4 linked regions of the Homo sapiens genome follow. The protein of the gene in region 2 interacts with the protein of the main gene of each other region in a pairwise test. Each region holds a gene or a part of one and is shown on either strand. Other genes may lie near its edges. The genes, in order: METTL27, KIF1B, PARP11 and MLC1.

What was found.
Region 1: the proteins of KIF1B (region 2) and METTL27 interact in binary tests that used the Homo sapiens proteins (3 or more experiments, as listed by UniProt).
Region 3: the proteins of KIF1B (region 2) and PARP11 interact in binary tests that used the Homo sapiens proteins (3 or more experiments, as listed by UniProt).
Region 4: the proteins of KIF1B (region 2) and MLC1 interact in binary tests that used the Homo sapiens proteins (3 or more experiments, as listed by UniProt).

What each region holds. Positions count from the first base shown.
Region 1 is NC_000007.14:73,839,288-73,846,582, reverse strand, and holds the start of METTL27 (methyltransferase-like protein 27), read left to right. Parts: upstream 1-4,066; 5' UTR 4,067-4,093; exon of another isoform or gene 4,094-4,260; intron 4,261-4,438; 5' UTR 4,439-4,442; coding exon 4,443-4,565; intron 4,566-5,384; coding exon 5,385-5,513; intron 5,514-6,033; coding exon 6,034-6,169; intron 6,170-6,462; coding exon 6,463-6,552; intron 6,553-7,295.
Region 2 is NC_000001.11:10,290,561-10,297,833, reverse strand, and holds part of KIF1B (kinesin-like protein KIF1B), read right to left. Parts: intron 6,753-7,273; coding exon 6,673-6,752; intron 5,788-6,672; coding exon 5,712-5,787; intron 2,749-5,711; coding exon 2,669-2,748; intron 2,175-2,668; coding exon 2,068-2,174; intron 1,253-2,067; coding exon 1,169-1,252; intron 938-1,168; coding exon 757-937; intron 661-756; coding exon 588-660; intron 1-587. UniProt on the Homo sapiens protein: Has a plus-end-directed microtubule motor activity and functions as a motor for transport of vesicles and organelles along microtubules.
Region 3 is NC_000012.12:3,828,273-3,835,545, reverse strand, and holds part of PARP11 (protein mono-ADP-ribosyltransferase PARP11), read left to right. Parts: intron 1-5,527; coding exon 5,528-5,656; intron 5,657-6,515; coding exon 6,516-6,636; intron 6,637-7,273. UniProt on the Homo sapiens protein: Mono-ADP-ribosyltransferase that mediates mono-ADP-ribosylation of target proteins. Plays a role in nuclear envelope stability and nuclear remodeling during spermiogenesis. Inhibits the type I interferon activated signaling pathway.
Region 4 is NC_000022.11:50,068,427-50,075,699, forward strand, and holds part of MLC1 (membrane protein MLC1), read right to left. Parts: intron 5,907-7,273; coding exon 5,790-5,906; intron 2,158-5,789; coding exon 2,101-2,157; intron 130-2,100; coding exon 7-129; intron 1-6. UniProt on the Homo sapiens protein: Transmembrane protein mainly expressed in brain astrocytes that may play a role in transport across the blood-brain and brain-cerebrospinal fluid barriers. Regulates the response of astrocytes to hypo-osmosis by promoting calcium influx.

The sequences.
Region 1 (7,295 bases), on a different chromosome or scaffold from region 2:
CCCAGGCTGGTCTCAAACTCCTGGGCTCAAGCGATCCTCCAGCCTCGGCCTCCCAAAGTGCTGGGATTACAGGTGTGAGCCACTGCACCCAGCCAATGGATCATTTTAATACATCTCCCACCCCAAACTGTTTTCTCTTCCCCAAGCCCCCAAGCTCCCTCTGTCACTTTGGCAGCAACTAGACTTGGTGGGAGGGGAAGCTTGATATCCACGGCCCGTAGTATGTAGGGTCCAGCCCTATGGGGCTTAGCGGGTGTTCTCCCCGTGTGCGGAGATGAGAGATAGTAATAAATAAAGACACAAGACAAAGAGATAAAGAGAAAACAGTTGGGCCCGGGGGACCACTACCATCAAGATGCAGAGACCGGTAGTGGCCCTGAACCGGCTGGAAGTGCTGATATTTATTGCATAGGAGACAAGGGGGCAGGGTAAGGAGGGTGAATCTTCTAAGTGATTGACAAGGTGAAGCAAGTCACATGATCGTAGGACAGGGGGCCCTTCCCTCTTAGGTAGCCGAAACAGAGAGAGAGAAGGCAGCATACGTCAGCGTTTTCTTCTATGCATTCATAAGAAAGACCAAATACTTTAAGACTTTCAGTATTTCTTCTATCGCTGTCTACTACGAACTTCAAAGAGGAACCAGGAGTAGAGGAGGAACATGAAAGTGAACAGGGAGCATGACTATTGAAGCACAGCCCCACAGGGAGGGGTTTAGGCCTCCGGATGACTGCGGGCAGGCCTGGGTAATATCCAGCCTTCCACAAGAAGCTGCTGGAGCAGAGTGTTCCCTGACTCCTCCAAGGAAAGGAGACTCCCTTTCGTGGTCTGCTAAGTAACGGGTGCCTTCCCAGACACTGGCGTTACCGCTTGACCAAGGAGCCCTCAAGTAGCCCTTATGTGGGCGTGACAGAAGGCTACCTCTTGCCTTCTAGGTCACTTCTCACAATGTCTCTTGAGCACCTGACCCTATACCTGCCAGTTATTCCTAGGTTATATTAGTAATTAAAAGCTAATGATTAATAATGTTTATAATAATGATTGATAATTGTCCATGATCATCTCTACATCTAATTTGTATTATGACTATTCTTATTCCATTTTCTTTATTATACTGAAACAGTTTGTGCCTTCAGTCTCTTGCCTCGGCACCTAGGTAATCCTCCGCCCACAGGAGTGAGAGGGTCATTTTCAGCAAAAGACACAGAAAAGGCTTTGAGGCTCCAAAAACTTAAGACTTGAGGGGAGTAAAGGATTAGAGGCAAAAAAAATAAAACTTGATGAGTCAGAGAAAGGCCTTCCAGCCCCAAGGCTAGAACAGGCTCCTGGGCCAAGGAGGAGAAAAACCGGAGGAGGCTTGTGCTTTGAGGTATTTCAAGATGTTTCAGGCACATCTCATACTTTTCCTGCCCCAAGCGTTTCAGTCATTTCATCAGCTGTTTCTCTAAGGAGCTCTGGTTCCTTTTAGTTGATAACGCTTTTTTTTTTTTTTAAAGAGATGGGGTCTCGCTGTGTTGCCCAGGTTGGAGTGCAGTGGTGCAATTTCTGCTCACCGCAACCTCCGCCTCCCAGTTTCAAGCGATTCTCCTGCCTCAGCCTCCTGAGTAGCTGGATTACAGGTGCGTGTGCTACCACTCCCAGGTAATTTTTGTATTTTTAGTAGAGACGGGGTTTTACCATGTTGGCCAGGCTGGTCTTGAACTCCTGACCTCAAGTGATCCACCCGCCTCGGCCTCCCAAAGTGCTAGAATTACACACATGAGCCACTGCACCTGGCAAGAATGCATTTTTAGAACCAGATCTGGATGCTCGTTGTGGTGATTACTACTGAAGCGTTAATTGTGTTTAGGTCATTTTGGCAGACAAAGCTAGGAAACTCACAAATACACACACATACATGTATGTCTATTTACATATCTTTCCATTTATTTATGTTAAAACCCATGAGTTTACTCTAATATCTCCCACTCTCCTCCAACGCTACAGGGTTCCTTCTACTCATCACCCTGTAAAACCAGAAAATCTAAGACAGGTCTCAGTTAATTTGGAGAGTTTATTTTGCCAAGATTGAGGACGCACGCCTGTGACACAGCCTCAGGAGGTCCTGACGTCATGTGCCCAAGGTGGTCGGGGCACAGCTTGGTTTTATACATTTTAGGGAGACACGAGACATCAATCAATATATGTAAGAAGTACATTGGTTTTGTCTAGAAAGGTGGCGACAACTCGAAGCAGGGAGGGGGCTCCGGGTCACAGGAAGGTGAAAGACAAATGGTCCTATTCTTTGAGTTTCTGATAAGCCTTTCCCCTGTAATCTCAGCTACTCAGCAGGCTGAGGCAGGAAGTGGAAGTTGCATGAGCTGAGATTGAGCCACTGCACTCCAGTCTGGGTGACAGAGCGAGACCCCATCTCATAAAAAAAGAATGCCTTCACCATCTGGGAATGCAGTCCAGTAGGTCTCAGTCTTATTTTACTCAGCCGCTATTCAAGATGGAGTTGCTCTGGTTCAAACATCTCTGACACTTCGACACTTCTACCCCCTAAACATCTCTGAAGATCACCCACTCCTCTCCGCAGTCATGACCTCTACCCAAGGTCATGCAACCATCACCTCCTGCCTGGACACCTGCAACAGCCTGCCAAATTCTGCCTGCCCAAACCCTTGATTCCAACACAGGTCCTCTAGACCAGCGCTTCTGAACCTTCAGCTGCCTAGAAATCGCCTGCAGAGTTTGTAGAAACACAGAAACTCTGGGCCCCAGTCCCAGAAATCTAATTCTCATTCAGAAGGTCCCAGGTCAACTGAGAATTTTTACTTTTTTTTTTTATTTGAGATGGAGTCTTGCTCTGTCACCCAGGCTGAAGTGCAGTGGCGCAGTCTCTGCTCACTGCAATCTGTGCCTCCCAAGTTCAAGCTATTCTCCCACCTCAGCCTCCTGAGTAGCTGGAATTACAGATGCCCGCCACCACGCCCGGCTAATTTTTGTATTTTTAGTAGAGATGGGGTTTTGTCCTGTTAGCCAGGCTGGTCTCAAACTCCTGTCCTCAAGTGACCCGCCCACCTCAGCCTCCCAAAGTGCTGGGATTACAGGTGTGAGCCACTGCGCCCCGGCCTAATTTTTGCATTTCTCACAAGCTTCCCTAGGGCATCTCCTAGAGGAAACCAAGATGTTACGGAGGCTGACGCTGCGTATCTTCAGGTCACACTTCCAGCCGCAAGACTCTCTCTGCTGTCCAATACAGTAGCCACTAGCCACATGTGGCTATTTAACTTATTAAAATAAAATTTGCCAGTACGGTTTTTTAAAATAAAATTATTAAAATAAAATTTGCCAGGAGGCAGAGGTGGGAGAATCGCTTGAGACTAGGAGTTTAAGACCAGCCTGGACAACATTTTTTGTCTCTACAAAAACTACGAAGATAAAAATAAATAGATAAAAATTTAAAAAGCCGGGCAAGGTGGCATGCACCTGTAGTCCCAGCTACTCAGCTACTCAGAAGGCTGAGGCAGGAGGCTGGCTTGAGCTTGAGTTCAAGGCTGCAGTGAGCTATGGTCAAGCCACTGCACTCCAGCCTGGGCGACAGAGTGAGACCCTGTCTCATAAAACAAAACAAAAATAAAACAAAATAAGTAAATATAAATACAAAGTAAAAATGAAAGCTAATCCTAGGTCCCTCTCCTGCCCATAAGAATTCAGAGACTCCCCAGTGCCTACAAACCTCATGCTTTCAGGAAGCATAAAGGACTTCAGGAGGCAGGAGGGCAGTTGGAGGGGGATGGTGGAGGTGCTGCTACCTGACGGTGGAGGGGGAGGCCGGGGCCAGACCACCGAGAAGCCCCTAAACCCGCACAGCAGGAAAACATCTCCGCAGTCCCTGCTCTACCAAGGCTGGAGGAGGGCCACAAGCCTTGAGCTCATTGGCTGGCGGGGGGGGGGGGGGCGGGCAGACTGCCAGCGCCTTCCTTTGACTGGCTATTTTCTCTCAGCGGAAAACCAATCATTGCGGGCAGGCGGTGAGGGTGTGGCCAGGGTCGCAACACAGGCCCCGCCCCGAGTCCTGTTGCCCACACGCCCGAGGCGCGCTGGATTGGCGGTGAGTTCTGACTCCGGCCTCCTTCGAGACCGTTTCGCTCCGGATGTCGCCCACCTCCGACCCTCTCTCAGTCGGAGGGCGGAAAAGAGGAAGATAGGTCCTTCCTCCAGCCGCGGGGCACCCCCTTCTCCCACCTTGCCCTTCCCCCAGCCCTGCAGCCCCAGAGTGTAAATATCCAAGCCCGCCCTCTCTGCGCTCAGTGTCCCCATCTGGGATAGGGGCCGGGATAGGGGTCGCGCTGGCAGGAGGCCTGGCAGCCTCCTCTGAAGGGGGAGGAGGGAAGGGGGAAAGGAGGGGATGGGCGATTGAGGTGGACCTCGAGACAGGGCAACGGTGTCCCCACAGGAGCATGGCCCAGGAGGAGGGTGGGAGCCTGCCCGAGGTGCGGGCGCGGGTCAGGGCCGCGCATGGCATCCCCGACCTGGCCCAAAAGCTCCATTTCTATGACCGCTGGGCTCCGGACTACGACCAGGTAAACTCATTTGGGGCCTTGCCTCCACTAGACCAGCCTCCATTTTTCTACCTGTAAAGTGGGGAATCAGCCTTGCACCCGGGGGCGGCTGTGAGGACGAAGTGAGGCCTGGCTAAGAACCCTACAGTCCTGCCCCTTCCAGAACCCGCCCCACAGCTCTGGATTGGCAGCCCCATCAGGGGCCATGACCTCCTGAGGGGGGCTGCCTGGAGGAGGTGCTATTGAGAAGTCACTGTGGGGCCGGGCGCGGTGGCTCACAAGCCGTAATCCTAAGCCCTTTGGGAGGCCGAGGCGGGCGGATCACCTGAGGTCAGGAGTTCGAGACCAGCCTGGCCAGCATGGTGCAACCCTGACTCTACTAAAAATACAAAAATTAGCCAGGCCCACGTGGTGGCAGGCGCCTGGTAATCCCAGCTACCCTGGAGGCTGATGCAGGAGAATTGCCTGAATCCGGGACACAGAGGTTGCAGTGAGCCAAGATCTCTTCACTGCACTCCAGCCCGAGTGACAGAGGGAGACTCTGTCTCAAAAAAAAAAAAAAAAAAAGTCATGTGGACTCAGCAGAGAGAGCCGCTTGGCCAGGAGAGAAGGTCCCTGGAGGGCTGAGTCTACTGTACAGTGGGCTGGGGGCTAACTCTCCAGTCCTGGCCCTTTAGCAATGGGAAGCACCTCATGCCTGGGCGTCCCCTCACGCTAGCCCCAGCCAGGCTTGATCCCCAACACACACAGCTTAGCCTGGCAGACTCTGAGACCACCCCATAAGGGAGATCCCCCAAACACTGGGGCACCGGTGTTGTAGGCCCGGCACTCTTTCCCCAGGATGTGGCCACCCTGCTGTACCGTGCGCCCCGCCTCGCAGTGGACTGCCTCACACAAGCCCTTCCAGGCCCGCCCCACAGTGCCCTGATCCTGGACGTGGCCTGTGGCACAGGCCTAGTGGCTGCCGAGGTGAGGCTCTTCCAGATCCCCTGCCTACTCCTTAGCCCCGCACTTCCTCAAATCTCCTACTGCCCCTGGCCCCAGAACCCTGCCCCACACCTCAGACTCACTGTTTCAAATGCATGAGACAGGACCAGGCATACTGTGGCTCACACTATGGGAGGCCGAGGCAGGAGGACAGCTTGGGGCCAGGAGTTTGAGGTCAGCCTGGGCAACATAGCAAGACCCCTGTCTCTACAAACAGATTTAAAAATTAGCCAGGCAGGGTGGTGCACGCCTGTAGTCCCAGCTACATGGGAGGCTGAGGTGGGAGGATCACTTGAGCCCGGAAGTTCAAGGCTGCAGTGAGCTATGATCACGCCACTGCACTCCAGTTTGGGCGACAGAGAGAGACCTTGTCTCAAAAATTTAAAAAAAGCAAATGCATGGGCCACATTCAGTGCAGAGTCCACTGCCCTGCCAAGGTGCAGGGACCCAGCCGGGAAGTGGCAGGTGTGAACCATGACTGAGTCTCCCACCCCTACCCCAGCTGCGGGCTCCAGGCTTCCTCCAGCTGCATGGGGTGGATGGGAGCCCAGGGATGCTGGAACAGGCCCAGGCCCCCGGCCTCTATCAGCGCCTCAGCCTCTGCACCCTGGGCCAGGAGCCTCTGCCCAGCCCGGAAGGTACTTTCTCTCCCACCTCCACACCCCGAGGCCCACCCTCATGAAGCCCTTTCCCTTGCTGATCCTCCATCCCTCTCCCACACTAAGCTCCCAGTCCCTCACTCAACCCTGCACCCCACGATCTGACTGCAGCCCAGAACTGGGCCATACTTACCTTATCCTCTAGGGGACCTGGGTCCTGCAGATGCGGGTAGTAGCCTCGTCCCACCCCTAGGGTGGTCTGAGGCCACACCATAGACAAAGTACCTTCCAAGCATCACACCATGTCCCCACCCCCCCCCACACACACACAGGGACCTTCGACGCGGTGCTGATAGTCGGTGCCCTCAGTGACGGCCAGGTGCCCTGCAATGCGATACCTGAGCTACATGTCACCAAGCCAGGTGAGGAGCAGCCCAGCCAACCACCCCCAACCCCCGTCACCATATACCTTCCCCTGTGCATAGTGCAGACACAGGCCCCAGAGCCCCTCAGGCTAAGCGAGGGGCAGCGTCCTGCCCAGCGTCACACACAGCCTAGCCTAACATCCCAGCCACCAACAGCAGACCCAGGCAAACAGGCCGGGCAGACAGGTGGCCAGCTCGGCTCTTATCCATGGACAACCAGGAGCAACTCCACCCTCCTCTGCAGCCTCCTTTTCCCAGTCTGGGAGTCAGGTGGTATAAATGCTACAATCCAGTCCCCGTAGGACTGCAGTGAGAATCAGGTGAAATCCTGTCTCTAAGGTTTTTGCTTTGGTCCTGACCCACAGTGAGGGCTCAGTTCTGTTCCTTCCTCTCACTGCTTCCTCACTCATTCATAGACTGCCTTTGGAGCATCTCTTTCTCTTTCCTGGTCTCAGTCTTCTCATCTGGGAAATGGGGCTGCTCAGGGGAGATGAGAGCTGTGAGCACCGTTTGTAAACTTTGCACATTGCGCTGCCCGGGCAGGTGTGTTTCCCGTCTCCTGCTGTGTTCTTGCTCAGCGCTTTGTTCTGCTCTGGGCAGAGGGCTCAGACCCTGCCCTCTGGGCCTTGATCTCCAACCCACTGGGGCCCAGGAAGGGGCCAGAGAGCACAGGGCCTGGTCAGAGGTGGCCCCACGAGAGCCGTGAGTGCTCACTGCTCCCAGAATTTATTTATTTATTT
Region 2 (7,273 bases):
GCTCCCACCGCTACCACACATGCCACTGAGAACCTGATTGAGAATTCAGACTCCATGCAGGGGATAAGGAAAGGAGTAACACATGCAACTGTGCAGCAACACTTTTAGACACAGTTTAACTTAAAAAAAAAAAGTCTGCCCAGCGTAAGAACAATCCCAAAGTCAGCCCAAGAGCAGAGAATTAGTACTATCAAGTGATCAGAAACAAAACCAAGGCAAACTCTCACCAAATTCAATATTCAGAGTAATTATCATTTAAAGAACCACCACTGAAGCAAATTCCAAAACCACTATCAAGAGGCAAAGGCTACCAGAAAAGCTCTATTTCCTTAAAAAGTATTTGGTTGTAACAGAAGTTAAGATTTGGCTTTAAGACATAAAAAGCCCAAAAGAGTACCTCTGTGGACTATTTTTTCAGGCTAAGGCTACCGGGAGATTTAAGTTCATTCTCCATTAAGGAAATTAAAGAATAGTGCTTGGTATCATTGAGACAGAAGCAATTTGGGTGAGTACTGCTCTGTGGAACAGGGAAAGTATGGGAACAAGCTGCCCTTTTCCCAACAGTTTAGCAGATTCAGGACTCCTACCAGTCTCTGCTGCTCCAAAAGAAGATCTGCTTCTTCCTTCTCCTTTTTGTATAAGATCTCCATTTCCTGTAGCCTAGAAGTAAAAAAAAAAAAAAAAATTCAAGAATGCTATTAGTATTACATGTTTAAAAGAAGAAACAGTCATATGGGCTGCGTAACTGTGCATTACCTTTTCTCCATCTCTTGTTTCATATCAATTCCTTGTTTTTCCAGAAGCTCCCTCTGGGCAAATGTCCAGTCCACAGGCTCAGAGGGGGTCTCAGCAGAAGGAGTCTTCTCTCGCTCAGCTCGTGCTTGTTCCGGGTGGTTAAAGCGGAAAACATGGTTTTTACCCATGATGATACGGTTTCCTAGCACAAAACAGAAAAATAGGGTTAAGAAATAATTTTTTTAATATATAGTATCTATTTAACAACCTCACCCCTCCCTAATGTGAAAAGACAGCTTTCAGAGCTGTTGTTTTTACAAGAACAAAAATCCTAATGCTGACTATTACTTCAGCCTTTAAACAGCCAAAAATTAGAGTTGTCACAGAAGCCATGTGCACATTGCTGAAGATGGCAAACCTCTCCCAGTCTCACCTGAGCGCAGCTGAACAGGCTGGGACACCCTCTTGCCATTTACGTAGGTTTCTGAGCGCTCACAGGGCTCTAAGGTCACGATAACTAAGAGGAACAAACACAAACTAATGTTATCATTACAAACTATTGGAATCAAATAATGGAAAGCAGTTGCTTATCAGGATTTGCAGTAAGTAGAATAAATCCCTGCAATCAATCAAGTGGCTGAAGTTGTCTATACAGTAGTTCATTTTGGGGTACCAGAACTAGCCCCAATAGAAGAGGCTATCTGTGGCCATGGCTAACACAAGAACATTTAACTCTATTTGATAAACCTAAGAAGATGATAGGAAATATTAGTTTCAGGGATCTCTGACGGTTCAGTCAATAAAACTCAGAACCATCAGAAATTGTAAGGATGAGATATAGGTAATAACCAGAAACTAAAGACTGAGAAGCTAATATTTTGATAAGGGAATGAGTGACTTATATAACAGAAAAAAACCATTAAATTGTTGTTTTGTTAATAACCCAGGCAAAAATCAAGACTGACTTTTTCTTCCCTTTTAGATAAAAATAAATTCTGCTGGGTTGACTTAATGTCCTTCAAATCTCCTATTACCCAGGATATCTGCTATTTTCTTACTTTTCTATTAAATAATTAACATTCCAGACCAAGCCTAATTGCCTATGTCCTTCTCAGTTCTTGGCAGTAAAAAAGGGCTTCTTTTGTCCAAGCTATTTTCATGTAAAGCAGCCTTGTCCATCTCTGCATTCATAAGCAGCCCAGGTCTCTCCATTTTTCAGAATTAGATTGTATAAGAAAGTACTACTGATAGACAGAGAATACAAAGTCTTAAGGATTTCTCATAATATAAAATGAAAATGTTGTTGCTGAAGCTCCAGCCAGGAATGCTCACCTTCCCCGCTGTTGCTTCTCTCACTCCGGAAGATACAATGCTCTTCTTTAATGTGAGCCCCGCTCAGCACTATGTCCTGGCGCCGCTCAGCATCTGCTTGGCCAACCCTGAACACAAGAGAAAGTGTTTCCCAGGGAAATTCAGACACAGAAAGCACTACAAACAATGAACCTCTTTATTCCAAAGAATATCCTTTGGTACGTACAAAAAAGGTATTGCCTTGTTGCATCAGAAGCTTTCAACTATGAATTCTATCCTCACATATGATCAACCTCTCTACATCAGAATAAGAAACAAGGAGCACTGATATACCAATGTAACTCATACAGTATTATAAAGACATGAGTCAAATAAAATCCCTAAGGAATGTATATTTGTTAAAGGAAAAAAAAATTATTTAGGGTCTTCAGAGAAAAACTACATAGTAACTGGCTCCAGTGGCAAAAACACATTATTTGGAAAGAGAGCATAGTTTGTAACTATTTCAGACAAAAAATACAGCAAATCATTACGTTAATTTTTTCAACCCCTTCCCTTTAGTTATTCAATTATCTAAGAGGGGGAAAACACACGAAGTGACCAAAACAGGAAATAAATATACCTTGTAATTCCATCTTTGATGTAATAAAGTAGGCACTCAGACATTAGTGGGTCTTCATTGAGGTTAACAAGATGTGGGGTCTGAAAAAGATTACAGATGATCAATTTGGAGCAGGGCACCATGAGAGAGCTGTGGTAACAACAGGGGCCTACAAGAGGCCAGGCTTCTCCAACTCTCCACAGAGCCTAGAGAGGGATTTCTTTTTATCCCTAGTTGCGGTTCCATAATAAAGAGAAAACACTCTCTTCAGGCCTCACCAAACGGAACCAAGTGCATTCTATTTTATTTTAATTAATTAATTAATTTGAGACAGAGTCTCGCTCTGTCTAGAGTACAGCGGCATGATTTTGACTCACTGCAACCTCTGCCTTCCAGGTTCAAGTGATTCTCCTGCCTCAGCCTCTCAAGTAGCTGGGATTACAGGTGTTCGCCACCACGCCTGGCTAATTTTTCTATTTTTAGTGGAGGCAGGGTTTCACCATGTTGGCCAGGCTGGTCTCGAACTACTGACCTCAACTGACCCACCCTCCTTGGCCTCCCAAAGTGTTGGGACTATAGGAGTGAGCCACTGTGCCTGGCATTCCATTTTAAAACATGAGTTCTGGGATAAAAAAACAAGACCTAATTTTTGATAAGGTCAAAGCACAAGGAAAAAATGACAGGCCAATTCTCTGAACGGAATAATTATAATTTTTGTAAATGCCTGGGTAAAAATCTCAAGAAATATTTACTTTTATTAAAATGTCCCCATACCCCCCCACCACTTCCCACTATAATTTTTATCAGTTCTTCTGATCCCAGTTATTAATTTGTCTTTACCTTAAAAGATTTTAATTTATTAGTCTTTACCTTAAAGAAAAAAGTAAAATTACTGATATTCGATAAGATAAACATCTTCTAACAATCCTCTTCATCTAACTCTAATATTTCTAAAATCTTTTTAAAAAACCAACCTTCTTTAGTGAAAATAACCCACTGGAATCCAAAAATAAGTCACATGGTCTTGAGGCCAAAATCTACTCAAGAGAGTGCCAGCAAATGTGGAAGAATGAAAGAAGAGTCAGATGAGGGGGTAGGAAAAGGAACTATAAAAGATGGTTAAAGAGAAATCTGAAAAACCTCCACATCTTCTCAACTAGCATCCCCCTTTGTAGTTGAAGAACTTGACTGGTTTGAGAAAGTCAAAGCCCTTTGTGAGTAGCATTCTTTAAAGCACATCATAATTTGAAAAATGGAATCTCAGAAACAGGTCCTAAGACTGAGTTTGGATGTGGTCACTGGTATATCCCTTCCTTTCATGAAGAAGTCTAGAAAGCTAAAGCAAGATGGGTAAAATTAAAGTAAGAAAAAGCTTTGGAAGCAGAGATCTCACTTTGGAATTCCATGCAGTGTACATCTCAACATTTGTTCAAGTTATTTATGATTTATGTTAAATGCATAATATTTTCACTAGTTGTTATAATAAAAATTTTCCAGCCAGGCACAGTGGCTCATGCCTGTAATCCCAGCACTTCGAGAGGCTGAAGTGGGTGGATCACAAAGTCAAGAGATCAAGACCACCCTTGGCCAACATGGTGAAACCGTCTCTACTAAAAATACAAAACTTAGCTGGGCGTGGTGGCATGTGCCTGCAGTCCAGCTACTTGGGAGGCTGAGGCAGGAGAATCACTTGAACCCGGGAGGCGGAGGTTGCAGTGAGCCAAGATCACACCACTGCAGTCCAGCCTGGCGACAGAGTGAGACTCTGTCTCAAAAAAAAAAAAAAAAAAAAATTTCCTCACAGTCTTTAATACTGTAAGATGTTATAAAATACCTTTATTAGACATATGCATAGGCACAATTAAATTCCACCAAAACTGTAACTGCTAAAATCTATATAATCCTAAGTAACATATCTGAATGAATACATGTCTTACTGAAGGAAAAACTATTAAAACTGTGAAAACCACTAACCTTTCATAATATAAACATATAAAATACTTAACTGTTCTATTCTACAATATGCATCTAAAATGTCTTTACATCAGTCTTTTCTGTTGAAAATAACACATTGGAATTTGGGAAGAAAAAAAAAAAAAAGTTATGTGGCCAGGATAGAAAAACCTGACCAGAAGAATTGTAGCGAAAACCACAGGAATATTTCATATCACATAAAAGTACCAATTCAAAACTCACCACCCCTTGTATCCTAACTTAGAGAGATCATCAACAGAACCTATGAATAAAGATGTTTAAGTCTCCAATAGCCAATGTGAGGTCACTTGAAATAAAGGACAATTTACTAGTGGCATAAAATACATGCTTTGTACATCGATATATGTTCTCCTATTTTCTGATACATAAGCACACAAAATAACCATTTGATAGTCATTTTCTAGTATCCAACAAGACGTTGCAACTTAGTTTAAGAAAAAAACAAAAAAACCCTTACTACTCTAATTAGCTAAAAGCTACGTAACTACTTCATAACTATGATTATGTAAAAAGGAAGGTAACTATTGGAGACACTTTTTAAAAAATGAAGAAGGAAGCAGAGGAGTCTAGAAGGATAGGGACAGGAATTGCTTTACTTAGTACAATGGCTGTCTATAATACAAATTGCAGAAGCAAATGGAAGCAGTATTATTCTCCACAAACCTGTACAGCTGAAATTGGTTCCAAAAAGTTATAAAGCAGGGTAGACGACTTCTGTGGGAAAATCTACATGAAAGAGTAGCCAAAACTGAAAGTACGCTAGGTTAGGCTGGGAATTTAAGAGAAAGCAACAAATAAAGATGACTAAACAAACTGAATCATGGCCAAAGGTTACATATTGCCTTAGGTTTTTTCTTTTGTAAACAGTAAACAAGATAGGCATTTTAGAAATAGGCTGCCTTTGTACTATAAGACCATGCTCTAAGATGAAATCAGAAATATCTGAAATTAAGGCAAGTATCAAGATAATAAGGGGGAGAGTAGGTCCTGAAAGACATGAAGTGCCCCAGTAACAAAGACAAACAAAAAGTGTCTCTGTCTGATTAGGTTTCACAGCATTGTTTCCTACCTTTTTAGGTGAGAAAACCCCTAGGGTTCCTCCATCTTCCCGAATGGCAACTCCCATCTCAGCCAACAAAGCCTCTCTAGGAAAAAAACAGGTATATCAGAACACTAATACCAAAATGTCAATTAAATCAGTCTAATATGAATTGGAAAATAAAGCCTGCAAAGCAAAAACAACTGGCCATGTTTATAGCCAATAATGCAAACATAAAATAATGTGCTTATCTCATCATTAATGAGAAGTTATTTCTAAAAGCAACATCACATTCAAAATCAATGAAATCTTGCTTTGTTAAAGTTATATTCACTGAGATAAGAACTTTGTCTCAACTGACTTTGGGATAGTCAATAATTCATAAATGATATGCATATTAATATAAAAAAGAAAAGAAGAGGCTATTCCTTTTTTTTTTTTTTGAGACAGAGTCTTGCTGTCACCCAGGCTGCAGTGCAGTGGCACCATCTCGGCTCACTGCAAACTCTGCCTCCCAGGTTCACGCCATTCTCCTGCCTCAGCCTCCCGAGTAGCTGGGACTACAGGTGCCCACCACCATGCCCGGCTAATTTGTTTTGTATTTTTAGTAGAGATGGGGTTTCACCATGCTAGCCAGGATGGTCTCGATCTCCCGACCTCGTGATCTGCCCACCTCAGCCTCCCAAAGTGCTGGCATTACAGGCGTGAGCCACCGCGCCTGGCCAATATGTTCCATTTTTATGAATCCCTAGCAACATGTAATATGGTAACTAATAAACCTGTGACTCCCTAGATAATATTTAAATATGTAGATGTCATTTCAAAGCATAAATTCAACTGGCCATAAATCCCTGTCCATTTTTTTGGTTTCGTTTTGTGTTTTAGAAGGGCAGACTCTTTGATTTTAATTTATATTTTATCTTTTCTTACGATAAAGTAATCCACATCCCCTAGAAAACTTAGAAACATTTCCAGATTTTAACCTCCTGACCTCTCCATTCTGATGGCCTCTGTTTTACGAAGCTTCTCTTCCCAAGTTTCATTCAACTCAGCAATGATCTTCTCTGATTCCTAAGGAAGGAAGCGCACAGTTAAAGAGGCAAAGAGTCTTATAATTTAACATACCATGCTAGAAAAGCAAGAAGCAAATCATGCCCTTTGAGGATACAGGCCAGAATTAAATGTAAAGAGATTTTTCTTTTATTAATACATAAGATAAGAATCATAAAGATTAGACCTAAAACTAAATCAACCCCAAACAAATAAATCCTCCAAGTCTTTTTTTTTTTTGAGACGGAGTCTTCCTTTGTCACCAGGCTGCAGTGGCGCGATCTCAGATCACTGCAACCTCACCTCTGGGGATCAAGTGATTCTCCTGCCTCAGCCTCCCGAGCAGCTGGGACTACAGGCACGTGCCACCACGCCCAGTTAATTTTTGTATTTTTAGTAGAGACGGGGTTTCACCATGTTGGCCAGGATGGTCTCAAGCTCTTGACCTCGTGATCCACGTGGGCATGGTGGCAGGCGCCTGTAATCCCAGCTACTCAGGAGGCTGAGGAAGGAGAATGGCATGAACCCGGGAGGCAGAGCTT
Region 3 (7,273 bases), on a different chromosome or scaffold from region 2:
ATCTAGAGGCAGCTTCTTTTGGTTTTCTATGTGTATTGATCACATCTTTATGAAGTTTTTTTATGTCTCATAATTTTTTTGTTGAGAACTGGATATTTTAAGTAACATAGCAACTCTGGATACTGATCCCTATTGTGGTTGTTTGTTTGGTTATTGGTTTATGTGTATATAACAGTGATATAGCTGAACAAATTCTGTAAAGTCCATTTTCCTCACAGTGTGTAGCTTCTGATATCCCAGCTCAGACTTTTCCCCTCTTAACCTGACTACTTATGTGGCATTTCTGGATTGGCATAGACTATGTACTGGTCACAGGTTGTGCTTACATTCCCTGAGGTAGGTAGATTTTTACCCTTAAGTGTTAAATGTGTGTGTGGCTTGGTGGCTGCTATTATAGTTCAGGGAGTTTACATTTTTTTTTGTCCTGCATTTAGCCAGGTGCTAGAAGCTTGGAAGTTAGTTCCTGAGAGGGCCCAACCTTGAGCATGTACACAGTGTTCCAGACTGTCAGGGATGACAGTGCTGTTTCATTTAACCCTGGCTTCATAGGAATTACCCCTGGGTCAGAGTAGCTTCTGTTACGTCGTGTTTGGCCAGAGGTGGTGATTCAGACCCTTGTGCCAATGAAGTTTCTCCGCTCTGTCAGTGGGTACGTGTATAGCTTAGAGAACGTTTTCAAGACTGCCCCACGTTCTGCCCTGATCATTCCTGGGTGTACACAGCCTAGTGTTTTTATACTGCCTTTCTGACTCCTCTCTGATCTAAGAGGGCTCTTCTTGGCTGTCTCTGGTTCTCTGCATTAAACTTCTGCTTGCTCTGCCTTTCTGCTTATATTGGAGCTCCTAGCCTTTCTTAATTGTTTTTCATTAATATTTCCACTGTTTTCTTTCTTTCTTTTTTTTTTTTTTTTTGAGATGGAGTGTCGCTCTTGTCGCCCAGGCTGGAGTGCAATGGTGTGATCTTGGCTCACTGAAACCTTTGCCTCCTGGGTTCAATCAGTTCTCTTCTCTCGGCCTCCTGAGTAGCTGGAACTACAGGTGCACGCCACCACACCTGGCTAATGTTTTGTATTTTTTGTAGAGTTGGGGTTTCACCATGTTGGCCAGGCTGGTCTCAAACTCCTGGCCTCAGGTGATCTGCCCATCTTGGCCTCCCAAAGTGCTGGGATCACAGGCATGAACCACCACACCCGGCCCACTGTTTTTGATAATGCCCTTAGGCATGGGGTTCTGCTCTCTGTTCCAAATAAAGTCAGTCCTCTCAGATGGAAATGTAGAGCTCTTTGTCCTTATGGCTCGTCTTTACCCCTGAGCAAAGTCTCCATGCCACTGCTCCTGGGGCTGAAGGTGAGAGTCTTTTTTCCCCAGAGTAACACTCCATTCTTAGAGTGGGCAGTGGAGTGCTGGTAGCAGCCCTTGGTCTTCTTAGCTGACTGCTCCTGGCACAAAACCTCTACTCTGGGAGGAAGTTGGGGCGGTGGCAGTCAGGGCCCAGTATTTGCAGCCTGCTGTACCTGGAATAGAAATTCTACCTTTTGAATGGGGGCTGTGTAGGGAAAGAGAGACGGGTCCTCTGTGTCACCTCTCCAGAACAGAGCTTCTACACCTCTGGGCTGAAGGAGAGGAGAAACACCAGCAGCCTGCCCTTCCCGGGGTAAAACTAGCCACAGACTGGAAGCCTGAGGGAGAGGGAGCCCTCTGCCTGTCTTTTGGGTACATATACCGCAGGTAGAGGCTTCATAATACAGACCTGGTAGGATGTGGGGAATGGTGCAGTTTGTAACTCAAACGCCACAGACTCTGACTTGTTCTGAGATTGAGTACATTTTCTTGAATGAATGTTTCTCCACTTTTTGTATGCCCTTAGTACAGTTTCCAGAGACTTTAAATGTTTGTTTTTTAAAAAAATTTTCAGCAGTTTTTAATTTTTAATTAATTAATTTTTGTGAGGCAGGGTTCTGCCGTGTCAAGCTGGAGTGCAGTGGCGTGATGTTAGCTCACTGCAGCCTCAAACTCCTAGGCTCAAGTAATCCTTCCATCTCAGCCTCTCAAGGGGCTAGGACTATAAGCATGCATCAGCATGCCTGAGTAATTTTTATTTTATTTTTTTGTAGAGATGGAGTCTCACTGTGTTGCCAGGCTTGCCTCAAACTCCTGGCCTCATGCAAACCTCCCTTCTCAGCCTCACCAAAGCCCTGGGATAACAGGTGTGAGCTACCACGCCCGGCCTACTAGTTTTTAAAATGTAGTTTTGCCAGTTCCACTGAGCTCCTTATTCTGTCATTCTGGAAGTTCTCGTTCATTTTTAAGCTTTTAAGATCAGGTTTGAGATCTTCTTTATATGTAGAGGCAAGGAAGTTGTTATTACCAAATATGATTTCCTGAAGATACTATACTCATGCTAACAAAATAAATTATACTTTGTTGTAGTAAACTAAAATTTATATCAGAAAACTTGAAACCAGTCTGGAAGGCAGCCTTATTTTCCTTATATAGACCAGGATTTTGACTTTAAACTCATTTTCCACACAGCTTTTCAATTTGATGATTCAGACTGACTGTTCCCAGGCTCTGTAAATAAAGATTCTCTTTGTAACAGATAACATTACGGACAGGCTCTACCAGCATACCCATTGCCCTTGAAACTTTACAAAATGCTTTGCCGCTTTGTACTAGCTTTTTCTTCTTCCCAGCCTGCTTCTAATTACAAACAGGAAAATCAGACAGGATATGGCATTGTGACTGAACAAGTTCATTCATCTAACATTATTAAATACCTGCTTCATAACCGATAACTGGTGAATATTCTTTTTATTACCTATAAATGTGTCCTAGCCTAGAGCCATTCTTACTATGGTTGCGATATTTTAAAGTTATTAATTTAAATTTGACTTAACTCTTTGAGCATAATTATGCAAAATAGTCATTTCTTTGGAGAGAAAACTTACTGTAGAAAATGGAAATGTTTAATCTTATAAAATGCATCTTTTTAAAGAAACCCAGAGCATCTGTGAAGCAAAGCAATTAAACTAAATGTTAGCAACATAGGAGAGGAGAAATAACTGTCCATGTGTGAAAAGGAGACAGTGGGGCTTGGTAACTTAGGGGAAGAAGTGATGTTCAGGAGGCCTTAGGTGTTGCTTTAATATTCTCTGTACTGCTAGCTGTGAATCTAGACAAAAAATTGTATTATTCTCTGCTTCGGTTTTTTTCCTGACTTTAATTGGAAAATAATCACTTATCTCTCCTGCACATTGGATTGTGGACGAAAAAAATAGTGTAATTTGATAAGGAATTGTATAAGATTTGAAGTGCTTTAGGAATGTTCAATACAATGGTACCTGTCCCACCCAAAGCGATTTATAACAGAAAGCTCTGAAAGGATGTTGCTGAAACACTTTCATTTATAACCTGGCCTAAAGCGAAGTCTTAGGTAAGGTGTTTTATAGCGGAGCACACATGTTATATGTATGCTGTATAAAGGGAACTTTCCTATTTTCTATTCTCTTTTCTAATAGAGAAAAGATAGAACTCGTAAGGCAAATATTTTTCTTAACTATTAGCTCCAATCTCATTCTTCCAAATTTTTCTGGTTATTTTCAGAAGAAAAACTAAATTTAGGTCACACTTTCTTTCCTTCTCTCTTTCTCACAGTTAAATGGCCCAATGAAATGAACATTAATAAAAAAAAGCAGTAGGAATTGTGAATAGTTTACTGGACAGTTTGGTCTTAAACTTTAAATCATTGTCTTTATTATGTGGTTAAAATATATAAGGTAAATAGTGGGTCCTAAACCAGAAGGCTTTGATCCTAGGGTGTTCTATTTTTCATTTCTTAGAAGCCAACCAAATTTAAAACATGAAGAAAAAAATGGGAAATAATCATAAAGCATTGCTTGAGTTTCCAAACATATATAAAAAATAACAAACCCCCTTCATTGAGGTCAGGCACTGTTATAAATGAACTTGTCTCGTTCATTTATAACATTGTCTCATTCATTTATAACAACATCCCAATGAGGAAGGAGTCTATCATTTTTCATTTTGTGAAGAGCCAACTGTGGCCTAGACAAGGCAATTGAAACTTATTCCAGGTTGCTACAGCTTCTAAAAATAGGATGGACATTTTAAATGATGAAATTAAAAGGCAAATATTTTCTAAATTACCCAGTAGTACATATTCTTTGTTAAAAAAATCAATGATACAGGAAATCAAATTTTTAACAAATCATCAATAACTCTATATGTTTTTATGTGTGTATAATTATACACACACAAACAGAGTGAGAGAGAGAGAGAGATCTGAAAGATATGCAGTGAAATTATAGCATTGGCTAACCCTGGAGAAGAAAAGTGAGAAGGTACCAGGAATGGAAGTGATGGTTAAAAAAGTCTTTAGCTTTATTTTGAAAGTTCTGATTTTTTGCAAGAAGAATATTTTTTATGTAGTAGTTGTATAAACTTAATAATTTAAAAACCCTCAAAGAATGAGGACAGGAAGCCAAATTCCAGATTGAGTTTAATTTTCTTTGACCAGCCTCTTTGTCTCCTTTCTAGAGACTTCTTCATTACAATACCCAACCAAGAATGTTTAAAACTTTTCAAAGATAATGCATATGTGAGTTAATTGGTATAGCTAAAATTATGAAATCATTGATAATGAAGTATAAGACAGTATATGACGGCGGCTAAGTGCGTAGACCCTGAAGCCAGGATGTTGGGTTTGAATCTTGACTTCCTTGTTGTATGACCTCTCTATGCCTTAGTTTCCTCATTTATAAATTTGGGGTACTGATAGTACCTGTCTCTAGGTTGTTGTGAGACCTAAATGAATTTTCATCTGTGTAGTCCTTAGAACAGTAGCTGGCACGTAGTAAGTAATATAAAGGTTACTATTATTGTTATTGTATCCTGACACTTAGAAAAACTGGTGGTAGATTGTTATATATACATCCAGACTTTTTTCTATATATGTGTGTAAACATTTACATACACTTACACAGATACAGGCACGTTCACAGGAGTAAGTATATTTTTATTAAAATTGGATTATACTATTTCTATTTTTTTGTAATCTTTTACACTCAACACCATATAAATATCTTTCTATGCCATTAAATGAAATGACTGTTTAAAATAAAAATTAGATGCATTTGATCTTAACCAGCGTGATAGCATGGGTCCTTTTGACCAAATACATGAGCATAAGATAAAATTGAAAATGCTTGGGGCTATGCTGAAACCTGAAGTGCTTATTGATGTTGATATAGCTTACTTAAATGGTTGAATAGACACTGGCATATTCTACCTAAGATTATTATTACTTGCCTAAATTGTTAAGCAATGATGTCCAACATTTTTAATGTTTATCTTCAGAGCCAATATGAAAGATAGAAAGCTGTTTTTAAAGTGTCATGGGAGGAAAGACACTTGAATACCACTCTTTGTAAAGAAGTAAAATGATCTGTAAAAAGTATACTTGTTATTAATAGAATTATTTCTTCCTCCACCTCCTTCTGGCTTTTCAGGAGATGTTTCACAAAGCAGAAGAATTATTTTCTAAAACAACAAACAATGAAGTGGATGACATGGACACGTCAGATACCCAGTGGGGCTGGTTTTACTTGGCAGAATGTGGGAAGTGGCACATGTTTCAGGTACCTCCTTTCCTTTAATTTAGCAGAAGTGTTTTCGATTCACTTAGCATCACCTTGCTGATGTATGTAAAATGAGTATAAATATAGAACTTGAAGTCAAAGCTTAAGGAAATAAAATTGTTTAACTAAAAGAAAAGTTAGAAATTCTTCCAGTGCTTTTCCTTTTCTTTTCCCCAAGTTTTCACACTCATTTATTTAGAAGAAACAATAGAGGGTGAATGTGACTGAGAGTTGCATGGTGTCAGTACATCTGAGCAACTCCAAGTTTGGTTTGGTGGACAAAGAGAAAGGGAAGAACAAATCCGTATTAAACACTTCTGTATGCCAGGTATTATGTTAGGTGTTGTACATTGATTTTCTCCCTTATCCTCACAGTAACTTGGAAGCAGATGTTAACATTCTGTCTTACAGTCAAGGAAAGTGAAACTCACAAAAGTTGACATAATTTGTCAAGGGTCACACAGCTAGTTAAACTGAGATTTGAATCCGCACTCAAAACCTGTAGTCTTTTTTTTACTCTACTAAACTATATAAAGAAGATTTAACTTGAGCCACTTAGAAAGTATAATTATTGGAATAATCTGTAAAAATTGTAATTATCTGGAAAAATAACTATATTTCTATATATATCTGTTATTGAAGGGGACTATAACCAGTTGTCTCTTCACTGGAGATCCTTAAACCATTTTCAATATGCTGGCTTAGTTGTGATTCTCCCTGTGTGTTGGGAACTAGAACAGGTGATTAGTAAGTTTCCCTCGCCCCTCCATTCCCTGTCTCTATGACCACAGTACCACCTCTGTGGCCAAGTCATTAATGTGAACAGCTGGTAAATGAAACTTTCTGGTTTGTCTTAAAGCCGGATACCAACAGTCAGTGTTCAGTTAGCAGTGAAGATATCGAAAAAAGCTTCAAAACAAACCCTTGTGGCTCCATTTCTTTTACTACTTCCAAATTCAGCTACAAGATAGACTTTGCAGGTATGTTTTTTTCCCTAATAGTTGTGTGTTTTTAGTATATTGATATGATAAAATCTACAGCTCTGAAGGTCAGGATTAGTTGATATATTTGCAAACAGTGAAGTATATCTTTTTTGTTATATACAAAAATACCTCTATAAAAATTCAAGTTTTAAAATCTTGAGCAACATTGCCTTTTATAAAAGGTGTGTTTATATGTTTGTATATATTAATGTATGTGAAGATTGTCTTATATATTAAGTGCATTTAATACTTGTCTTCTAAGGAACACAAAACACCGTATCAGTTGTTTTATTCATCCCATCAGTCTTTTGAAATAGATAAGAACATTTAAGAACATTTTTACTTTTTTTTTTTTTTTTTTTGAGACGTCTCACTGTGTTGCCCAGGCTGGTGTGCAGTGGCATGATCTCGGCTCACTGCAGCCTCCGCCTCCCGGGTTCAAGCAATTCTCTGCCTCAGCCTCCCGAGTAGCTGGGATTACAGGCACCCGCCCCCACACCCGGCTAATTTTTTTGTATTTTTAGTAGAGACAGCGTTTCATCATGTTGACAAGGCTGGTCTTGAACTCCTGACCTCCTGATCCACCCGCCTCCACCTCCCAAAGTGCTGGGATTACAGGCGTGAGCCACCTTGC
Region 4 (7,273 bases), on a different chromosome or scaffold from region 2:
ACTCACTTTTATGGCTGGCGGGTAATCCTTAAACATCTCCACGATTCTCATGATGCTGAATGACAGATATCCAGAGGCTGTGAACAGCAGCGGAGACGTGAGGCTGCTTATGGCAATCAGGACCTCCACCTGGAAAAAAAGCGCGGGTTGCAGGACCACGGCCGGAGCCTGGGAGCCCAGGACAGCGGGCGTGGCCAGGGCTGGGGGGGCGGGCATGGCCGGGCACTCATGGGCATAGTCCCAAGCTGGTTCCCTGCATGACTCCTGCTGAAACCTCTGCCTTTTCTTTTTTCTTTTTCTTTTTTTTTTTTTTTTTTTTTGAGACAAGTCTCGCTGTGTCGCCAGGCTGGAATGCAGTGGCATGATCTTGGCTCACTGTAACCTCCGCCTCCCGGGTTCAAGTGATTCTCCTGCCTCAGCCTCCCGAGTAGCTGGGATTACAGGCGCCCGCCACCACACCCAGCTAATTTTTGTATTTTTAGTAGAGACCGTGTTTTGCCACGTTGGTCAGGCTGGTCTTGAACTCCTGACCTCAGGTGATCCACCCACCTCGGCCTCCCAAAGTGCTGTGATTACAGGCATGAGCCACCGCGCCCGGCCTGCCTTTCTTTCTTTTTTGAGAGGCAGCCTAGCTGTGTAGCCCAGGCAGGAGTGCGGTGGCACAATCTCTGATCACTGCAACCTCTGCCTCCTGGGTTCAAGCAATTCTCCCGCCTCGGCCTCTTGAGTAGCTGGGATTACAGACATGCGCCACCACACCTGGCTAATTGTTTTGTATTTTTAGTAGAGACAGGGTTTCACCATATTGTCAGGCTGGTCTTCAACTCCTGACCTTGTGATCCACCCACCTTGGCCTCCCAAAGTGCTGAGATTACAGGCATGAGCAGCCTGCCTTTTCATTCACAGCACAGTGCCACAAGTTTTGAAATACTTACCATCTAGGCAAGGTGGCTCACATCTGTAATCCAAGCACTTTGGGAGGCCGAGGAGGGCGGATCACCTGAGGTCACGAGTTCGAGACCAGCCTGGCCAACATGGTGAAACCCCCATCTCTACTAAAGATACAAAAACTAAGCGGGTGTGGTGGCGCATGCCTGTAGTCCCAGCTACTTGGGAGGCTGAGGCAGGAGAATCGCTTGAACCCGGGAGGCAGAGGTTACAATGAGCTGAGATCGTACCACTGCACTCCAGCCTGGGTGACAGAGCAAGACTCTGTCTCAAACAAACAAAACCAAGAAACAAAAAACATTTACCTGCAATTCTCCACTCTTGAAAAAATAGCCCTTCCGCATGGGTCACCTCCTTCACTGCTCTGAAGTCTGTCCTTTTAACCCACCCCAAATCTTCCTGTTTGACCCATCAAGTCTCAGAGACAGCCTTCACTCATGCCAAGCATGGGCAGTCACCTTGCAAAGCACTCAGGGTCCACATTTTGGCAGCAGTCATTAACGATCGACCAGTTCAATTGTTTGCGGTCAGTTTGTGGCAGTTTCGGCCGGGCGTGGTGGCTCACACCGGTAATCCCAGCACTTTGGGAGGTTGAGGTGAGTGGATCACCTGAGGTCAGGAGTTCGAGACCAGCCTGGCCAACATGGTGAAACCCCGTCTCTACTAAAAATACAAAAATTAGCCGGGCATGGTGGCAGGCGCCTATAATCCCAGCTACTCAGGAGGCTGAGGCAAGAGAATCACTTGAACCCGGGAGGCGGAGGTTGCAGTGAGCCAAGATCGTGCCATTGCACTCCAGCCTGGGGGACAAGAGCGAGACTGCATCTCAAAAAAGAAAAAAAAACAATCGACCAGCCTTAGGAGGTGCAGATGATGCTCAGACACTGGTCTCCTTCCAAGGGTTAGGCACAGAGAGCGCTTCCAGTGTCTACACCACCTTGTTCAGGTCTGCCTGTCCCTGAGAACAGTCCCTGCTGAGCGGGCCAGCCTCCACCTCCCACAACCCCACCTTCCTCATTGTGCAGGCCCTGCAGCCCAGTCACTGCGCTCTCTTGGGCTGGAGCCTGGTCACATGGCACCAAGGGAGGGCTAGGCCAGGCCCTGGCCCCGCTCGGTGGGTCCCTGGCACCCAGGGCTGAGGGGTTCACCCACCAGACACTTGCTGGGACACTCTGCTGCCACATGACTGGCAATGGCACTTGGAAAGCACTAAGAGAAAAGAAAAAGGAAAGATTTTAGAGGAAATAGTCGAAGAAGTCGAATTCCAAACATGTGCCCTCCCACCAGTGACCCCTCCATGCAGGCTGCCTGGCTGGCTTGCTGTGGGGGGCAGGGGGGATGGTGCAGTGCCCAAAGGCGCAGCTGGGGCAGGGACGGGTCCGCAGGGAAGCAGGGGTAGCCTCTCAGAGGTTTTGTGTGCTCTCTGTTCCTCAACCATTGGTTTAAAATTTTAAGCCTGTAGAAAAGCTGCAAGAGCAGTGGAGGGGGCATCTGAGGCCCCAAAATCACCAGAGTCCTTGACATTCATATCTGTGCTCTCTCCAGCTCTCCCAGATAGCCTGATGCCTGAACACCTGAGAGTGCTGGCTGAGCCCAGGGCACACTCTTGCACACACCCAAAGCAGGACCACGCTCGAGAGACTCCACGTGGGGCCGATGTGGTCCATGCCCAGATTCTTCCAGTTGTCCTCATCATGTTCTTTCTTTTTAATTTTTTAATAATTTTTCTTTCTTCTTCTCCTTTTTTTTTTTAAGATGGAGTCTTGCTCTGTCACCCAGGCTGGAGTACGGTGGCGCGATCTTGACTCACTGCAACCTCCACCTCCCAGGTTCAAGCCTCCTGAGTAGCTGGGATTATAGGCACCCACCACTACACCAGGCTAATGTTTGTATTTTTAGTAGAGACGGGGTTTCGCCTTGTTGGCCAGGCTGGTCTCGAACTCCTGACCTCAGGTGATCCGCCCGCCTCGGCCTCCCAAAGTGCTGGGATTACAGGCATGAGCCACCGCACCTGGCCCTGGTCATGTTATTTCTAGAGCTGTTTGTTTGTTTGCTCCTGATCCGGATTCGGTCTGCCATTGAGCTCGTAGTCTCCTTGTGGGTCCCTGTTAATCGGGGAGTCCCTCAGCCTCTGTCACCTCCGTTACCTGGTCGCTTCTGGGGGGTGCAGCCCATCAGCTGCAGTCGGGCCTCCGTGTGGGACAGGATTTCCTCATGATGAGCCTTGGGGAGCCTCGGAGGAGACTCTGCAGTGCCCCAGGGTGTGGACTGCCCCTTCCTGATGACGCTGACTTGACTCACTGGGTTAGGGGGATCTGTAGGTTCCTCTGTTGGATGGGCACCTCTTCCTTTTTATAACCAAGAAATGCCCTTTTCCCACTTATTGTGAGGAGCCTGCCTTAGTTCCGCACAATGTAGGCAGAGGGAGGATGCATGCTCTTCATCCTCTTCATCTCCCCGAAGGTGTCCAGGTGCCAGCACCCCAGCCCGGCCTGCTGGGGAGGGGGCTGCATCAGCCAGGGGCTGTGGTGAGAGGGTGGGCAGGACAGAGATGGGCTCCGAGCAGGGGAGCCTGGGCAGCAGGGAGAAGACTGGGGAGCTGAGGGGCTGCCAGTGCAAAGGCCCCAAGCCAGCTGCTGAGGTGGGTGTGGCCCTGGCCAGGGAGGCTGAGGTGTCAATACAGGGGTCTCTCCTGGGCTTGGTGCTTCTGAAAGGGCCTTCTAGCTGTAAGCAGCAGTGAGGGCACAGGAAGGGATGGTGGCTTCAGGGTGGCCTATTCAGGGCCCCAGTGAGCCATGGGAGGGCGGGAGTTTCCCCGTTCACCCAGCATGGCCACTCCGGCCCCTGCCCTAGAGGGCCAGGAAGCTCAGCCATAGGGGCTGGGGCAGCTCAATCAAGGGCCCTGCCCTGGAAGGGTCCAGGCCTGCAGCCCAGCCCCCAACTCCAGCCCCGAGCACCTGCCTCCAGCCCATGGTGCAGGGCCTGGGCCCCTCTGCCGCACCCAGGCCAGACTCAGGCAGGTGGAGCTGGGTCCCTCACCACGCATGCCTCAGCGCTCTCCTCTCCTCCTGGGGTCTCCTGCCCTGAAGAGAGGGTTGGGAGTGTGGGTGGATTTAGGGGCGCCCAGGGGGCAGCACCTGATGGGCAGGGGGTGCTCTCCGGGAAGATGGAGAGAGCAGAGCCACCCCCGAGGCAGGAGGGGTCTGCGGGATGGGAGGGGCCTCTGTGATGAGGGCTGACTGCAGGGACAGGGAAGGGGGTAGGGCAAGTGCCTTTCATTCTCAACTTTTTGGAGGTATGTGGTCTCTGTCCTCCCTCAGCTTCGGGATGTAATCCCTGCGTTTCAGACCCCAGGGTCAGTTGTACACACCTGCAGGCGTCATTCTCTCTGTCACAGACCCGCTTGGGTGGGCACCCATGTGAGTTCTCTGTCTCAGTAGCTGGGCCTGGTCCTACCCCTTCCGGGGGTGTGGCTCTATCCCAGCTCGGTCCTGCCTGGGTCTCTTTCCCTCTCTGAGCGCCTCAGCAGCCCACTAGGTCGGGCACTGGTGCCCTGGGGGCATTGCTCTGTGCCTACTCGCCCCCACAGGGAGCTGAAACACAGCTGCTGCCAATGGGATGTGTCCACCTGGCAGGCGTGGGCCCCTTCTCGGCAGTCCACCCGGCCACACCGTTCCCGGGCAGGCGTGGGCCCCTTCTCCGCAGTCCACCCGGCCATACCATTCCCGGGCAGGCGTGGGCCCCTTCTCGGCAGTCCACCTGGCCATACTGCTCCCAGGCAGGCATGGGCCTCGGCAGCTTCAGGAAGAGCCCCACTGCTGCCCAGGAGGAGCCTGTAGCTGATGCTGGGTGCTCACCATTCCTGCTCATGTACATAAGAGAGCAGGGGCAAAATCTAAAAGTCCACACAGCATGAGACAAACCAGGGGCTGGCCGTCAACACCGGTGTGCAGGCCACTACGCGGCAAGGTGCTGAGAACCTCGTGGGGTCTGCGTCCGGAGGCAGGTGGGTGGTGGCTCTGGGTGGGCTACAGGCTGTGAGGGGATCTGGGGTGTGGAGGGGTTGCTCTAGACTCACTGTTCTGAGGGAACACACCTGTAATCCCAGCACTTTTGGGGGCCGAGGCAGGCAGATCACTTGAGGTCAGGAGTTCAAGACCAGCCTGGCCAACATGGCAAAACCCGGTCTCTACTAAAAATACAAAAAAATTAGCTGGGCATGGTGGTCCACGCCTGTAATCCCAGCTACTTGGGAGGCTGAGGTGGGCAAATTACTTGAACCCGGGGAGGGGCAGAGGTTGTAGTGAGGTGATATTGAGCCACTGCACTCCAGCCTGGGTGGCAGAGTGAGACTCCATCTCAAAAAAATAAATAAATAAAATAAATAAAACAATGCCCATGTATTGAGCATGTGGCATGTGTCAGGTGCTGTGTGACACATCTGCTGCAGTAACATTTAATGTAAAGTAATAACAGAAATATGCTGCATTGTATGAAACACATAGTGTAATATAAATGCATTATATATTAGAAAATTATATAGAATAATAAACATCTACAGCCTGACATTCATATGTTAAAAAGATTAGAATAATAAAAATAATTGGTATTTTTTTCAGGAAAAATAATATAAAATAATCACACAAACTAATATAAAAGCAGTTAATACTTTGACTCATTTAATCCTTAACTCCCCAGTTCTTCTGAAGTTGGGGGCCAGCGAGGACCCTCTGTGGTGACTCTCTGTCTGAATGCACCAAGACTGAGCTCGGGGCCCAGCCACGCAGGATCTGAGCAGTGTGGCCCAGAGCGGCGGCGGGCGGGCCAGAGGGGTTACTCACGGCCACTAGGATCCAAAAGAACGTCACTGAGAGGTGTGGGCCTGAAACTGAGTCATCCACGTTCAGGGCAATGATCCCCCCGAGGACGGCAGAGATGCCTGCGATTACCTCGACGACCTGGAGGGGACAGGACAGCATCGGCTCATAAGGAAGTGGAGACACCCCCAGATTCCCAGAATGCACTGTGCAGACATGGACCCCCAGGAGCAGGGTCCAGTGGGCTGGCCCCAGATCTAACCGTGGAGGAGCCCACCTGGATGGACCCCCAGCCTCACCTGGCCCAGACCCCCTCTGCCCTCAGCTGCGGCTTTTCACGTCCCTCCTGGAGTAAAATAGCCAAAGAGGTGTTTCCCCCACTGCTGCTTTTGTCCACAGAAACTGAGGGTATTGACCTGACAGTGGTGAGGGCAGAAAACCAAGACCCTCAGACTCCCTTCCCTGTCTCACAGTGTGGCAGGCGGCGGTGCTCAGACCCTGGACCCCATCGAAGGGACTCGGGAAAACAGGCCTGGGGCAGAAGTAGCTTCCCATAGGACACACCCACCCGTGCCATGTGGGTTTGCCATTGCCACGGCAACACTGGACGTCACCACCCCTTTCCGTGGCAATGATCCAACCACCTGGACGTTAGCACCCCTTTTCTAGAAATTTCTGCATAATCTGCCCCTTAATTAGCATATACTTAAAAGTGGGTATAAATAGGAGGCAGAGCTGTCTCTGAGCTGCTGCTCGAGGCACCTGCCGGTTGGAGAGCCCTGCTATACTGCCACTGCAAACAAAGCTGCTGTCTGTCACCTCCAGCTCGCCCTTGAATTCTTTCCTGGACAAAGCCAAGAACCCTGCTGGCCTAAGCCCTGGTTGTGGACTCATCTGCCCGGCACCATCAGGGCCGCAACCAGCACCGCCAGACTCAGGGAGGGGCCGCAACCAGCACCGCCAGACTCAGGGAGGGGCCGCAACCAGCACCGCCAGACTCAGGGAGGGGCCGCAACCAGCACCGCCAGACTCAGGGAGGGCTGGGGAAGAAACACACGCCCGAAAACCTGCTCCCGTGAAGGATCTCTGTGAGTCGCAAACACAGAGCTGTGGCCAGCAGGAAAGCCAGGCATAAGGAGTGGGCCAGCAAGGGCTTGGGGGCCGGAAGGGACCTGGGCAGCCAGGCCTTGCGTCCAGAAGGCACAAAACTCCAGATGCACAAATAAAGCTGAATTCCCAGCCAGGCACGGCGGCTCATGCCTGTAATCCTAGCACTTTGGGAGGCCGAGGCAGACGGATCGTGAGGTCAGGAGTTTGAGTACAGCCTGGCCAACATGGTAAACCCCGTCTCTACTAAAAATAACAAAAATTAGCTGGGCGTGGTGGCGGGCACCTGTAATCCCAGCTACTCGGGAGGCTGAGGCGGGAGAATCGCTTCAACTCAGGAGGCAGAGGTTGCAGTGAACCAAGATCACACCACTGCACTCTAGCCTGGGCAACAGCAGGAC